2 linked regions of the Homo sapiens genome follow. The protein of the gene in region 1 interacts with the protein of each later gene in a pairwise test. Each region holds a gene or a part of one and is shown in the gene's direction. Other genes may lie near its edges.

Region 1 (7,227 bases):
GTTAGCAGAACTAGTGGCACTTACCCAAGCCTTAGAACTGGGAAAGGGAAAAAGAATAAATGTGTATACAAATAGCAAATATGCTTATCTAATCCTACATGCCCATGCTGCAATGTGGGAAGAAAGGGAGTTCATAACCTCTGGGTGAACCCCCATTAAATACCACAAGGAAATCATTAAGTTATTGCATGTGGTGCAAAAACCTAAGGAGATGGCAGTCTTACACTGCCAAAGCCATCAAAAAGGTGAAGGAGAAAAGGCAGAAGGAAACTGTCGGGCAGATGCTGAGGCCAAAATTGCTGCCAGGTGGAACCTACCATTAGAAATACCTGTAGAAGGGCCACTGGTATGGAACAACCCTCTCCAAGAGATTAAGCCCCAGTATTTCCCAACTTAAACAGAATGGGGACTTTCACGGGGGCATAGTTTTCTCCCCTCAGGGTGGTTCACTACGGAAGAGGGAAAGGTACTCATACCTGAAGCCAGACAGTGGAAAATACTTAAGACCCTCCACCAAACTTTTCATATGGGTATTGAGAACACTCATCAAATGGCTAAATCTCTATTTACGGGTCCAAATCTCCTCTGGACCATCCAACAAGTAGTCAAAGCCTGTGAGGTGTGCCAAAGGAATAATCCCTTGGTCCATCATAAGGCCCCTCTGGGGGAACAAAGAATAGGGCACAATCCCAGAGAGGACTGGCAGTTAGACTTCACCCATATGCCTAAGTCTAAGGGATTTCAACACTTGTTGGTCTGTGTTGAAACCTTTACAAATTGGATAGAAGCCTTCCCCTGCAAGACAGAGAAGGCTCAGGAAGTGGTTAAAGTCCTAATGCATGAAATAATTCCTAGATTTGGGCTTCCCCAAAGCTTACAAAGTGACAATGGTCTGGCTTTTAAAGCCACGGTAACAGGGAATTTCCAGGGTGCTAGGGATATCATATTACCTCCACTGCGCCTGGAGGCCACAATCCTTAGGGAAGGTTGAGAAGGCAAATCCCTATAACCATGAATACCATCTTAACTTTCCAAGCCCCTCTATGCATCCAACACAACCCGTTATCAGGCCTGCCCCTGGGGGACCTATTATCCCATCAGTGTAATTACATCCTACAACTTCAAGCCCGAACTGATTATAGTAACTTCCGAGTCACCCAAACAGCTCCACTCAGATGGCTTGTCCACTTCTCAGAGCCTCCAAAAATCATCACCTCCTCCCTGCTTAACAAACAGTCTGGGTTTTTTAATAGCAAACATACTCCCTGCATGACCATTCACCCCTGGACCCCCTGCAGCAGTGCCCCCACCACTAGTGAATGCCTCCTCATCCCCTCTTTCAATTAATCTATTGAATGGTTCCTAGTAGATACAAAACGGCTTTTTCCCCCAATGGGAAGATAGAGCACAGGGAGCCACTCAGTTTGCTCCCAACACCCCTTTCCAGCCACTCACCGGAGCCACCTTGGCACGTACTCTAGGAGTATGGGAAAATGAAAACAACAAACTCACACACCTTTTTAACGTACACAACCAGTTCTGTCTACCCAGCCAAGACGTATTCTTCTTACATGGAATGTCAACCTATATCTGCCTCCCCACCAACTGGACAGGCACCTGCACCTTAGTCTTCCTAAGTCCCAATATAAACATTGCCCAGACCCTATCAGTGCTCCTCAAAGCACAAGTCCATCAGCACAGGGCCATACAACTAATACCCCTACTTATAGGGTTAGGAATGGCCACTGCTACAGGAACCGGAATAGCAGATTTATCCACTTCATTATCCTACTACCACACACTCTCAAAGCATTTCTCAGGCAGTTTGCAAGAAAGAACAAAATCTATCCTTACTCTACAATCCCAAATAGACTCTTTGGCAGCAGTGACTCTCTAAAACCACTGAGGCCTAACCTCCTCACTGCTGAGAAAGGAGGACTTTGCACCTTCTTAGGGGACGAGTGTTGCTTTTACACTAACCAGTCAGGGTTAATATGAGACGCCACCCGGCATTTACAGGAAAAGTCTTCTGAAATCAGACAATGCCTTTCAAATTCTTATACCATTCTCTGGAGTTGGGCAACATGGCTTCTCCCCTTTCTAGGTCTCATGACAACCATCTTGCTATTACTTGCCTTCGGGCCCTGTATTTTTAAGCTCTTTGTCAATTTGTTTCCTCCAGGATCGAGGCCATCAAGCTACAGATGGTTTTGCAAATTAAACCCCAAATGAGCTCAACTAACAACTTCTACCAAGGACCCCCTGGATCGACCCACTGGCCCTTTGATACCTAGAGAGTTTCCCTCTGGAGGATACTACAATTCAGGGTCTCTTCTTCACCCCTATCCAGCAGGAAGTAGCTAGAGCAGTCATTGCGCAATTCTCAAAAGCAGTTGGGGTGTCCTGTTTAAAGGGGGTATTGAGAGGTGAAGCCAGCTGGACTTCCTGGGTCGAGTAGAGACTTGGAGAACTTTTCTGTCTTACAAGAGGATTGTAAAATGCACCAATCAGTGCTCTGTAGCTAGCAAGAAGTTTGTAAAATGCACCAATCAGTTCTCTGTAAAATGGACCAATCAGTGCTCTGTAAAATGGACCAATCAGCGCTCTGTAAAATGGATCAATCAGCAGGATTCTAAAAGTAACCAATCGTGGGGAGAATTGAGAAAAGGGCATTCTGATAAGACAGAAACAGGACATGGGAGGGGACAAATAAGAGAAAGCTGGCCACCCCAGCCAGCGGCAGCAACTGGCTCGGGTCCCCTTCCACTCTGTGGAAGCTTTGTTCTTTCGCTCTTCACAATAAATCTTGCTGCTGCTCACTCTTTGGGTCTGTGCCATCTTTTAAGAACTGTAACACTCACCACAAAGGTCCGCAGCTCCATTCTTGAAGTCAGGGAGACCAGGAACCCACCGGAAGGAACTAACTCTGGACACAATATTTTTTTTTCTTTTTTTAAATTTTTTTCTTTATTTCTTCTAAAAAAAAGTGGGATGCATGTGCAGAACGTGCAGGTTTGTTGCATAGGTACACGTGTGCCATGGTGATTTGCTGCACCTATTGACCTGTTCTCCTCTAAGTTCCCTCTCCTCACCCCCTACCCTACAACAGGCCCTACAACATTCCCCTCTCTGTGTCCATGTGTTCTCATTGTTCAACTCCCACTTATGAGTGAGAACATGCAGTGTTTGGTTTTCTGTTCCTGTGTTAGTTTGCTGAGGATGATGGCTTCCAGCTTCATCCATGTCCCTGCAAAGGACATGATCTTATTTCTTTTTATGGCTGCATAATATTCCATGATATTTTTCAAAAGAAAATATTTGCTGCCAACAGAAGATTTTATATTAAAATCTGTATTTGCAGCTTTTACTGAAAAGAACCTAAGGCCTTGCCATATTGGGCTCATTTTCTCAAATAGCAACATTTAGCTGAACTGAATAGACAGAGAAAGTACTTTCCAGTCAGATCATATCTGGCCCACTTTCCTCGTGTATGTTACCCTCCTCACTCCTGTAGGCATTTGCATGTGTAGTCACAAGCAAATGTGGTTTAGAAATTGTTCAGTGAACCATGTTGGAAAATGTCCCTAAACACAAGTCCTAAAGATGGTCTGTTATATTATCTTACAAGCACACAGTGGAAGGAAAAACAGTTAAGTTTTCTATTTCTGCCACAGCTTCTATAATTATTACCTTTCTTGTGCCCTAGGTTAATATCTAAAAATAGCTTTATGCTTTCTCAAACACATTTCACCAGCTCCCTCTGCTGATCCAATCTGAAGGACAAAACAGCTTAAATTCCTTGTAAGTCCTGAACTTTAAAATCACATTTCTGGGGTTGGAGAACTCCAAGCATGAAAGAACTTGATGAGGTAATGGTCATCTAAATAACTTTCTCCTTTGGACAGCTCCTATGGTAATCCAAGCAAGAGTCAGGGTGTAGAAGTTTGTTTCCAAAAGTAGAACTCCTGTTTCGCTGAGAAAGCTGTAATTTGGGGTGATTTGGCGCCCTCTACAGACTATAATGGCAAAAGCGACGCTATCATGTGCTTCCCATAGCTTTAGGGCTTTGCCAGAACTATGACGTTGAGGAGGGTGGGGTAAAGGGGCAGGAAGCGTTTATGTTCTGCCAATCCAACAGCTGTATTCTAACTCACCATTCCGCCCTCCCTTAAGATCACGGAAGTATCACGCTTGCCTCTTACACAACTTTTTTTCCTTAGTCTGTATACTTTCTGCTGTCACTAGCATAACAGAAAAGACGAATGGCTTTTGTTTTAAACTGAGGGCACTTTTACAAAAGTCATCTTTCCATTTATTTTTCTTTCAGAAAAAAGAATTTGGGTTTTGAGCTTTTTTAAAAAAAAAAGACAAACACTTTCCTTGACTTTGAGAAATAATTTAAGTCAAAGAATCTGCTCTATGCTAACCAAGGTAAGTGTCCTGGATTTTTTTTTTAATGGGGAAATGATCCAGAAACTGCTTTCACAAAAGATGAATGTTTTTCTTGGAGTGTGTTCCTTAAGAATGAATGTGATTATCTTCTTTTGGGGTCTCTTGACTAGGGCTAAAGCAAGAGAATTAAGGAGAGAGTCAGGAAGCAAAGGGAAGTTGTAAGGAAACAAAGTTATGTTGTGGACAGAACCATCCAAAAGGAAAGTGTCAGTGAGATAAACAGAATCATGAGACTTTCAGTGACTCCAGTGACCTCTGATTTCATCTTATGAATGAGATGGAAATGCCAGCCATTGGGAAACAAATACCCCATAGATGGCGTGGGAAAAAAATACTGTAACAAAGCAAGAGCATGGTAGGATGATGATAAGAAACATAAAATGATCAAATTTCAAATTCAAAGAAATCATAATTGATTACATGATTTGCAAATCACCCAAGTCTCTCCATGTCTCATAAAGGATTCCTACATTTGCTGGTCAGTCAGGTATAGGGTGGGGTTTTCCCGTTGTACAAAGGTCTAGTTCAATAGGTCAGGTCTCCTTTCTGCCAAGGGACTAAATATAAGCAACCTATGGCTGGCACGGTGGCTCACGCCTGTAATCCCAGCACTTTGGAAAGCCGAGGAGGGCAGACCACTTGAGATCAGGAGTTTGAGACCAGCCTGACCAACATGGTGAAACCCCGTCTCTACTAAAAATACAAAAATTATCCAGGCGTGGTGCCGCCTGCCTGTAGTCTCAGCTACTCAGGAGGCTGAGGCAGGAGAATCACTTGAACCCAGGAGGTGGAGGTTGCAGTGAGCCGAAATTGTGCCACTGCATTCCAGCCTGGAAGACAGAGTGAGACTCCAACTCAAATAAATAAATAAATAAATATAAGCACCTTTGAGCAACCAAGTACCTTATGAAGTCCACTTTATAGTTTGCAGAGTTTGCACACACGTTCTCCCAATCCTTCAAGCCTGCAGTATTCTCGCCTACCTTTGAATTCATATCTTTTTTTTTTTGTGCACCAATTACTTGGTTTTCAGACATAAGAACAGTCCTTTCAAGCTTGAAGGAAACAAAGAGAAAGCCACTTGAACCCTCTGTTTTACAAATGTGGAAGCACTGGCTCAGAGAAATTGAGAATTGTGTCCAGGGTTACAAGCTGCTTAGAGGCAGAAGCAGAACTAGAACTCAGATCTCTCAATTTCCAGTTCACTCACTACCTTCCTCTACTGACTCAAGGCAAAATTTAAAAAGGTTGCTCCCATTCAGAAATTTATAGTCTGTAAATACGGATTAATTTTAAAAGGTGCTAATTCCCAATTTGTTTCTACTGCCTGTAGAGTCTCTAAGTCAGTCCTTAAAGTGCTTTTGCCCAGCACGTTTTTAACCCCACAGGCCACTCTGTGTCACTAACTAGGTCTCTAGACAGGGATAATAAACAGGCCAGGAGAGTGCAAGCATTCATGCCTAGAGCATGCTGCTACCATAGGACTTAGCACAAGGTAGTATCAGCCTCTCCATATACAACATCTTAAGAGCAGTCACGGTCTTTTTTAAATTCTAAGACTTTACTACTATTTCTTAGTTGCAGGGTCTTCATTATCTTCAGGGCCCCATACTTAGCTTAGGACCTGCACTTAGAGGTACCCAGGGCATATTTGTTGAATGAATTAATTTGCTTCCAGTCTATTCACGTCAGTATATTTTTCACTTTGGCAATTCAGTTAGCAGTCATTTCTTTTTACCTTATGATTGCAGAGATAGAGCACAGCAAAGATCTGCCAGCCCCAGGCCTCTACCTAGTGGCCTGGAAATTCAAGTATTCTTATTGGTGGAGGCCATTTGTTTCTGATTAGAAGCTGTCTAAACCTCCTACTCCTCAACTCAAAGGAAAACACAGGTATGTCTGCCTACTCCTTTCCAAACTTGTTGATACATTTTATCTGTATGAACTGTCTTTTCCAAGGAGAAGAGAAGGAAGACAGGAGACAAGTAGGGAGGTAGAGAATGAACACTGAGTAAATATTTTGTGCAAGGCACTTTTTTGTGTAAGTAATATCAAGTTTTTTAAAATGCAAACAATCCTTCAACATAGATATTTTTATTATTTTACAAATAATATATCTAAGGTTGCTTCAGTCGGTTGCTCAGGGTCATATGGCTAGTTGGTAGCAGAGAAAGTTCAAACCCAACTCTGCTGCCTCCAAAATCCATTTTCATTGCATTCCATATAGCTCTCTCAACTAAATAGGGACTCCCAAATAAAAAGTCTAAGAGGAAAAATGATGCATTTTTTAATACATAATGAAGCCAGGTATGGCAATCTCAGCCTTACAAAGGCAAGGCAGCAAATACATTCAGAAATTGGCAGCCCTAGGAAATCCTTCTGATCCTCATTGCAAGTTCATGAATCTGCCTTAGGGTCAGGTAAGTCTAAGGGTTCCTGGAGGACTCAGGAGTCTTTCTTTACTCCCTCCAGTCAGTAAATTCTCTTAGATTTTGTGCCTGGGGCTTCTGATCTGATTAAGAGACAAGCTACAGAGCCATAGAGAAAAACTCCAAGCCCATCCCAAAGGTGCAGCAGCAAACCTGAGCAAAGATGAAGGAAGAGGCTTAGTGACGGGAACCACAGGATACCTCAGGCTCTCAGACCAACAGCATGTTCACATCTTGGTTTCAGATCCTGAAATCCATACTCAGTGCAAACTCTGCCTCTTAATAGCAGTGTAGTCTTAAGTTGTTTCAAATGATTATGCTGATTTCCCATTTACTGGTCCTAATA
Region 2 (7,037 bases), on another chromosome or scaffold:
AGTGGAGGATGCCAGAGGTTTCACCCCAGTGGCCTTTGCCATGCTGGGAGTCACCACCGTCCGTTCTCGGATGAGGCGGGCCCTGGTGTTTGGCATGGTTGTGCCCTCAGTCCTGGTTCCGTGGCTCCTGCTGGGTGCCTCGTGGCTCATTCCCCAGACCTCTTTCCTCAGTAATGTCTGCGGGCTGTCCATCGGGCTGGCCTGTATCCTTCCTAGCAGAGAGCTATAGAACAACGCATGTCAAAGGGTGAACCAGGCTGGAGGGTCTGGGGTGTCAAGTAGATAAAATTGGGCTTACTTTGTATTTTTTCGAAACAGAGTCTCTGTCACCCAGGCTGGAGTGCAGTGGCAGGATCTCAACTCACTGCAACCTCTGCCTCCTGGGCTCAAGCAATCCTGCCTCAGCCCCCTGAGTAGCTGGGACTACAGGTGTGCACCACTACACCCGGCTAATTTTTATATTTTCTTTTTAGTAGACACAGGGTTTCACCATGTTGCCCAGGCTGGTCTTGAACTCCTGGTCTCAGGTGATCTACCCACCGTGGCCTCCCAAAGTGCTAGGATTACAGGTGTGAGCCACCGTGGCCGAGTCATATCTGATCATAATTTTTTTTTACTTTTTTTTTCATATCTGGTAATTTTTTATTTTATGCTAGACACTGAATGCTGTATTAGGGGCTCTAGATTTTGTTGTTTTCCTTTAAAAAATGTTGACTTTTGTTCTGATAGGCGGTTAACTTACTTGAAGATTGGCTTGAAACTTGAGGTTTGTTTCTAAGCTCTTTTCGGGAGAGTCTAGCATAGCCTTTATTCAAAGGCTGAATCTTTGTGGCTGCCTAATCAGTGGTGGGTGACTTAGGTCAGACGACCAGGATACCACCAAGTTGCTGGGGATGGTGACAGGGTATGGAGGAAGCACAGCCAGAGAGGCCCACATGAAGCTCACATGGTCGCACTGAGGCAGGTGCCCTCTATTTGAGATAAAAGGACGAGGTGTTAGTCCCTCAGGATGATACTGGTACAGCCTCCTGCCTTATCCTGCTACACCAGCAGAGGCATGTCCTGGCTTCTGACTGACTGCAGTGGCTAGAAGGGTGCAAGTGGTGGCACACATGGGTGTAGGAGAAGGGACAGCATTAATACCCCCTGCTGCTGGGCGCATTCATTCCCGGTGAGGCACAGTGAGTAGAAACCTTTGGCTCTGGGGTCAGGCGCAGTGGCTCACGCCTGTAATACTAGCACTTTGGGAGGCTGAGGCAGGCAGATCACGAGGTCAGGAGTTTAAGACCAGCCTAGCCAATATGGTGAAACACTGTCTCTACTGAAAATACAAAAATTAGCTGGGTGTGGTGACGGGCACCTGTAGTCCCAGCTACTCTGGAGGCTGAGGCAGGAGAATGGTGTGATCTGGGAGGCGGAGCTTGCAGTGAGCCAAGATCACACCACTGCACTCCAGCCTGGGCTGCTAGAGTGAGACTCCATCTCAAAAAAAAAAACAAACCTTTGGCTCTGGGTTTCCCCTGAGCTGCAAACTCCAGCCAGAGTGTGCAGCGTGCTAAGCATGAAGGCTTCTGTAGAGTGAGTGGGAACCTGTGTTCTCCCCGGGGAGTGTTCGGCCCTCCTCCCTTTGCTGCCTCCAGTTTCACTTAACACGCCAACCTCAGATGGCCTCACCTACTGCTATTCCATCGACCTCTCAGAGCGAGTGGCACTGAAGCTCGATCAGACCTTCCCCTTCAGCCTGATGAGGAGGATATCCGTGTTCAAGTACGTCTCAGGGTCTTCAGCCGAGAGGAGGGCAGCCCAGAGCCGGAAGTAAGTGACAGAACTCTTAAGTGCTGTTAAATCTTTTTTAAAAAAAAAATTATTTTTTTTTTTTGAGACGGAGTCTCACTCTGTCACCCAGGCTGTAGTGCAGTGGCACAATCTCGGCTCACTGCAACCTCTGCTTCAGGTTCAAGTGATTCTTCTGCCTCAGTCTCCTCAGTGTCTGGGATTACAGGTGCCCACCACTACATCCAGCTAATTTTTTTGTATTTTTAGTAGAGATGGGGTTTCACCATGTTGGCCAGGCTGGTCTCGAACTCCTGACCTTGTGATTTACCTGCCTCGGCCTCCCAAAGTGCTGGGATTACAGGCGTGAGCCACTGCCCCCGGCCAAATGCTGTCAAATCTTATTCTGTTTTTTTATTCTTTTTTTTATTTGAGGACAGGGTCTTGCCCTGTTGCCCAGGCTGGATTGCAGTGGTATGATCATAGCCCGCTACAGCCTCACACTCGTGGACTCAAGTGATCCTCCCACCTCAGCCTCCCAAGTAACTGAGACTACAGGCACATACCATCATGCCTAGCTAACTTAAATTTTTTGTAGGGACAGGGTCTCCACTGTGTTACCAAGGCTGGTCTCAAACTCCTGGTCTCAATCCATCCTTCCTTGATTTCTCAAAGTACTGGGATTACAGGTGTGAGCCACTGAGCCTGGCCTAACCTTATTATTAAAGCAACTCCAGGGCATGCAGAGGGTGTGGCTGGTTTATTGCCGTAAGTGATAAAGAAATGAGGTGCGGCAGATTGGAAAATAATGCACAGATGTCTTCTGAGCATTCTGGATTCTGCACAACTGCTTCTGAAGTAGCAACAGCAGGAAAGGGAAGGCATTTGAGGACACTTAACATGTGATCCTGAGTGACTTGTAGATAGGCTGGGCAGGAGGGCCCCCATCTAATTGACATTAGACACATACCTGCTGCAGGTCAGCCTGGGCTGTGACACACAATAGCCTCGATAAGTGCAGATAGGGCTGGGTGCGATGGCTCACGCCTGTAATCCCAGCACTTTGGGAGGCCAAGGTGGGCAGATCATATAAGGTCAGGAATTTGAGACGAGCCTGGCCAACGTGATGAAACCCCATCTCTGCTAAAAATACAAAAATTATCCAAGCGTGGTGGTGGTTGCCTGTAATCCCAGCTACTCAGGAGGCTGAGGCAGGAGAATCACTCGAACCTGGGAGGTGGAGGTTGCAGTGCACCGAGATCACACCACAGCACTCCAGCCTGGTTGACAGAGCAAGACACTGTCTCCCAAGAAAAAAAAAAAAAAAAAGGTGCAGACAGTCCACACAGCCAACTAGGCTGCTTAGGAGGTGGCCCAGCCCAGGTTTTCTGGTGAGGTTTACTGTTTTCCAGTTGGCTGATTAACTCACAGATGGAAAGTGCTGGTAAGCCGCCAGAGCTTGTGTGGCCTGGCTGCTTCATTTTATAGAGGAGGCCCAAAGAAGACAAGGGTCTTTCTCACCCACTCTGTTTCCAGGTAACAGAGTCAGGAGAGGGGCCATCTGGAAGCACGTCCCCTGCTTAGGAGGCCACCTCCCTCCCTCTCCCCTGTTCCCAGTGCCTCCTGCCTCTGAGTTCTCCGCTGGTTTCTGTCCATGCTGAGACCTCACAGTGTAGGATTTTTTCTTTCCTTCAGTGGTCCTCCCCCCAAAAAAGGAGCTCGCTGGGAAAGGCGTGTTCATCCATTTTGTATTGCTATAAAGAAATACCTGAGCCTGGGTCATTTATAAGAAAAGAGGTTTATTTGGCTCATGGCTTCGTAGGCTACACTAGGATCATGGCACCGGCCTCAGGCAGCTTCCAATCATAGGGCAAGGGGAGGCGGCACCACACATTGAGAGAGGGAGGGAGGTGCTGGGCTCTTAAACACCCAGCTCTTACCTAAACTCAGAGGGAGAACTCATTACTACGGGGAAGAAGCCAAGCCACTCACGCAAGGTCTGCCCCCGTGACCCAGACGCCTCCCACTGAGCTCCACCTCTAGTGCTGGAACACTGGGAATCACGTTTCTTTTTTTTTGAAATGGAGTCTCACTCTGTGGCCCAGGCTGGAGTGCAGTGGCGTGATCTCAGCTCACTGCAACCTCCACCTCCTGGGTTCAAGTGATTCTCCTGTCTCAGCCTCCCAAGTACTTGGAATTATAGGCGCGTGCCACTATACCCGGCTAAAGATCCATTTCAGCACATGATTTGGAGCAGAGGAAACATCCAAAGTGTATCAGAAGGCAAGGTGCTTGGTCCTTGGCCCTTTTTGGCCCGCCACCAGCTGTGGAGTAAATTTTCCCCTGCACGCTGGCCTGGATGTGGGGTTTTTGTTGAATAGGAAGCTGCCCTTAGAGCTTCTTCCAAGAGGTGCTCCCAGCTGTCAACAGCTCAGAGCCCTTGGACTATTTTTCTAAAAGGCCAGGAGGGCTGCTGGGAAAACAGAAATGCGGACTCACCGCATTATTGCTTCAGGCAAGTAATTCCTGGGGTCTCAATGTGGGGGAGACTGTACATTTAGGACTAGGTGTTTTGTGGGTTTTAGTTGTTCTCATTGAATCTGGAGAACTGTCTGTCACCAAGGAATCCCCTCTGTAATAGCTGATGGTGGTCTCCAGCTGTATCTCACATACAAGAGCTCACTCTCCAAGACTGGCCCTGATGAGAAAGTTCTTCCATGCTGAAGGGCCGGGCGCGGTGGCTCACACCTGTAATCCCAGCACTTTGGGAGGCTGATGCGGGTGGATCACGAGATCAGGAGATCGAGACCATCCTGGCTAACACGGTGAAACCCCATCTCTACTAAAAATACAAAAAATTGGCCATGTGCGGTGGTGGGCACCTGTAGTCCCAGCTACTCGGGAGGCTGAGCCAGGAGAATGGTGTGAACCTGGGAGGTGGAGCTTGCAGTGAGCCGAGATCGCGCCACTGCACTCCAGCCTGGGCAAAAGAGCGAGACTCCGTCTCAAAAAAAAAAAAAAAGAGTTCTTCCATGCTGAATTGCAATCAGCCTCACAGACACTGCCACACCCAGTGCCAGGTCTGATCCTGCCTCACTGTGACAGGCAGATCTTAGGGTTTAAGAGGAAGATGGTGTTCCTTCTGTGTTCCCCACGTGACATGGAGTCCAGTCCCTCAGGTCTGGTGCCTGCTGCAGACACTCAGAATATTGTGTTTCAGGCAGCCTGACAGTGGGTCCAGGGCCATGTCATGACACGCATGTTTATTTTGTCAGCAAGATGGCCGTTTGGACAGCTTGTCTCCTCAGAGGCTCTTGTTGATAGATAATTTTTTTTTTTTTTTTTTTTTTACACATGGTCTTGCTCTGTTGCCTAGGCTGGAGTGCAGTGGCACAGTCATAACTCACTGCAGCCTCAAACTTCTGGGTTTAAGCAGTCCTCCTACCTCAGCCTCTTAAGTACCTGGGACTAGAAGCATATGCCACCAGACCTGGCTAATTAAAAAAAAAAAAAAACAATTTTTTTTTTTGAGACAGAGTCTTGCTCTGTCACCCAGGCTGGAGTGCAGTGGCACAATCTTGGCTCACTGCAACCTCTGCCTCCCAGGTTCAAGCGATTCTCCTGCCTCAGCCTTCTGAGTAGCTGGGACTACAGGCGCCTGCCACCACACCTGGCTAATTTTTTTTTTTTAATTTTTAGTAGAGACCGGGTTTCATCATGTTGGCCAGGCTAGTCTCGAACTCCTGACCTCAGATGATCCACCCGCCTTGGCCTCCCAAAGTGCTGGGATTGCAGGTGTGAGCCACCATGCCCAGCCTGAATCCGTTCTCTTTGGGCAGAATTGTCGAGCCAGCCACACAGGCACTGGCAGCTGTGACCTGGTCCCAACGCTCCATCTGGTTTAGAAGCTGCTGTGAGCAGGTCACCCCTCCGGTGGTCTCAGTGGCAGGTCCAGTGTCCTTTCATACAACTCCCTTGCTGCAGGACTGCAACTGGCCCCACCCTCCCTGGGCATCTGTGGTCTGATTGGTTGAGGTTAACCTTTCTCCCACTTGGTACTTAGAGCAAGTCACAGAAAACATCCAAGGCATGTTGTACTAGAAAGCGGGGGCAACCTCAAGCACAAGATGCCATGACCTTGCCAAGACTCGCTGAAGGACCATTTTCTCTCTTGTTCCATTCCAGACTGAACCCGGTGCCTGGCTCCTACCCCACACAGAGCTGCCACCCTCACCTGTCCCCAAGCCACCCTGTGTCCCAGACGCAGCACGCCAGTGGTCAGAAGCTGGCCTCCTGGCCCTCCTGCACCCCCGGGCACATGCCCACCTTGCCTCCGTACCAGCCTGCCTCCGGCCTGTGCTATGTGCAGAACCACTTTGGTCCAAACCCCACCTCCTCCAGTGTCTACCCAGCTTCTGCGGGCACCTCCCTGGGCATCCAGCCCCCCACGCCTGTGAACAGCCCTGGCACGGTGTATTCTGGGGCCTTGGGCACACCAGGGGCTGCAGGCTCCAAGGAGTCCTCCAGGGTCCCCATGCCCTGAGAGAATTTCTAGGGAAGTCATCTCACTTGGCCTTCTGAAGGTCCTCCCTAAGAGTCTCCTGACAAAAGTTACTTATTGAACACCTCTATGTGCCAGGCTCTGTGTTGGGTACTTTGATCAATGCCCCTGTTTCAGTCTCATCTGTACTCACGGCAGCCCTGTGGAGTACGGTGTACTGGCCCAGCTTACAGATGCAGAAAGCGAGACGTTCTGCCATCAGATAAAGTCACGTGGCTCTTTAGTAACACGGACAAGGCTCCTCGCCAAGGAACTCGTGGCAGAAGAGGGCAGCAGTTGGCAGTAGCTGCCGATGTCTGTCCCCAGCTCCACCATTCCTCCCTGTGGCTGTGCCGTGCTCGTGGTTTCAGTGTCCGTGTGTCCATGTGTCTGCCCTTCAGGAGCTCGCAGCTGGTGTGCTTGGCGGTCCCAGGCCTGTGTAGTGTCTCTCCCCTGCTGCGGGCGCCCCCACCCCGATTCCTCTCCCCAGAAGCGGTGGGATGGGCCCCCATGAACTGCAGCAGCATGCTGAGGTGTCCATGTTGTCTGCCTTTGTATAAAGAAACAGCCTCTGACCTGCCGTGCTGGCGTGTGCTTCCTTTGTGGTCTGGCTGGGGAAGAGGGAGTGCGCTGAGATCTGGGCAGTGGCAATGTGTGGTGTGGCGGCAGAGAGGAGAGATGCACCAGGGCCAGGTCAGGCAGGTGACCAGGGCCCAGTGGGTCA

The links. Proteins that work in one complex are often made in the same cells at the same time.
Region 2: the proteins of FMO4 (region 1) and RHBDD2 interact in binary tests that used the Homo sapiens proteins (3 or more experiments, as listed by UniProt).

Annotation. Positions count from the first base shown.
Region 1 is NC_000001.11:171,309,983-171,317,209, forward strand, and holds the start of FMO4 (dimethylaniline monooxygenase [N-oxide-forming] 4), read left to right. Parts: upstream 1-4,200; 5' UTR 4,201-4,431; intron 4,432-6,203; 5' UTR 6,204-6,345; intron 6,346-7,227. UniProt on the Homo sapiens protein: This protein is involved in the oxidative metabolism of a variety of xenobiotics such as drugs and pesticides.
Region 2 is NC_000007.14:75,882,034-75,889,070, forward strand, and holds the end of RHBDD2 (rhomboid domain-containing protein 2), read left to right. Parts: coding exon 1-203; intron 204-1,664; coding exon 1,665-1,815; intron 1,816-5,958; coding exon 5,959-6,316; 3' UTR 6,317-6,893; downstream 6,894-7,037.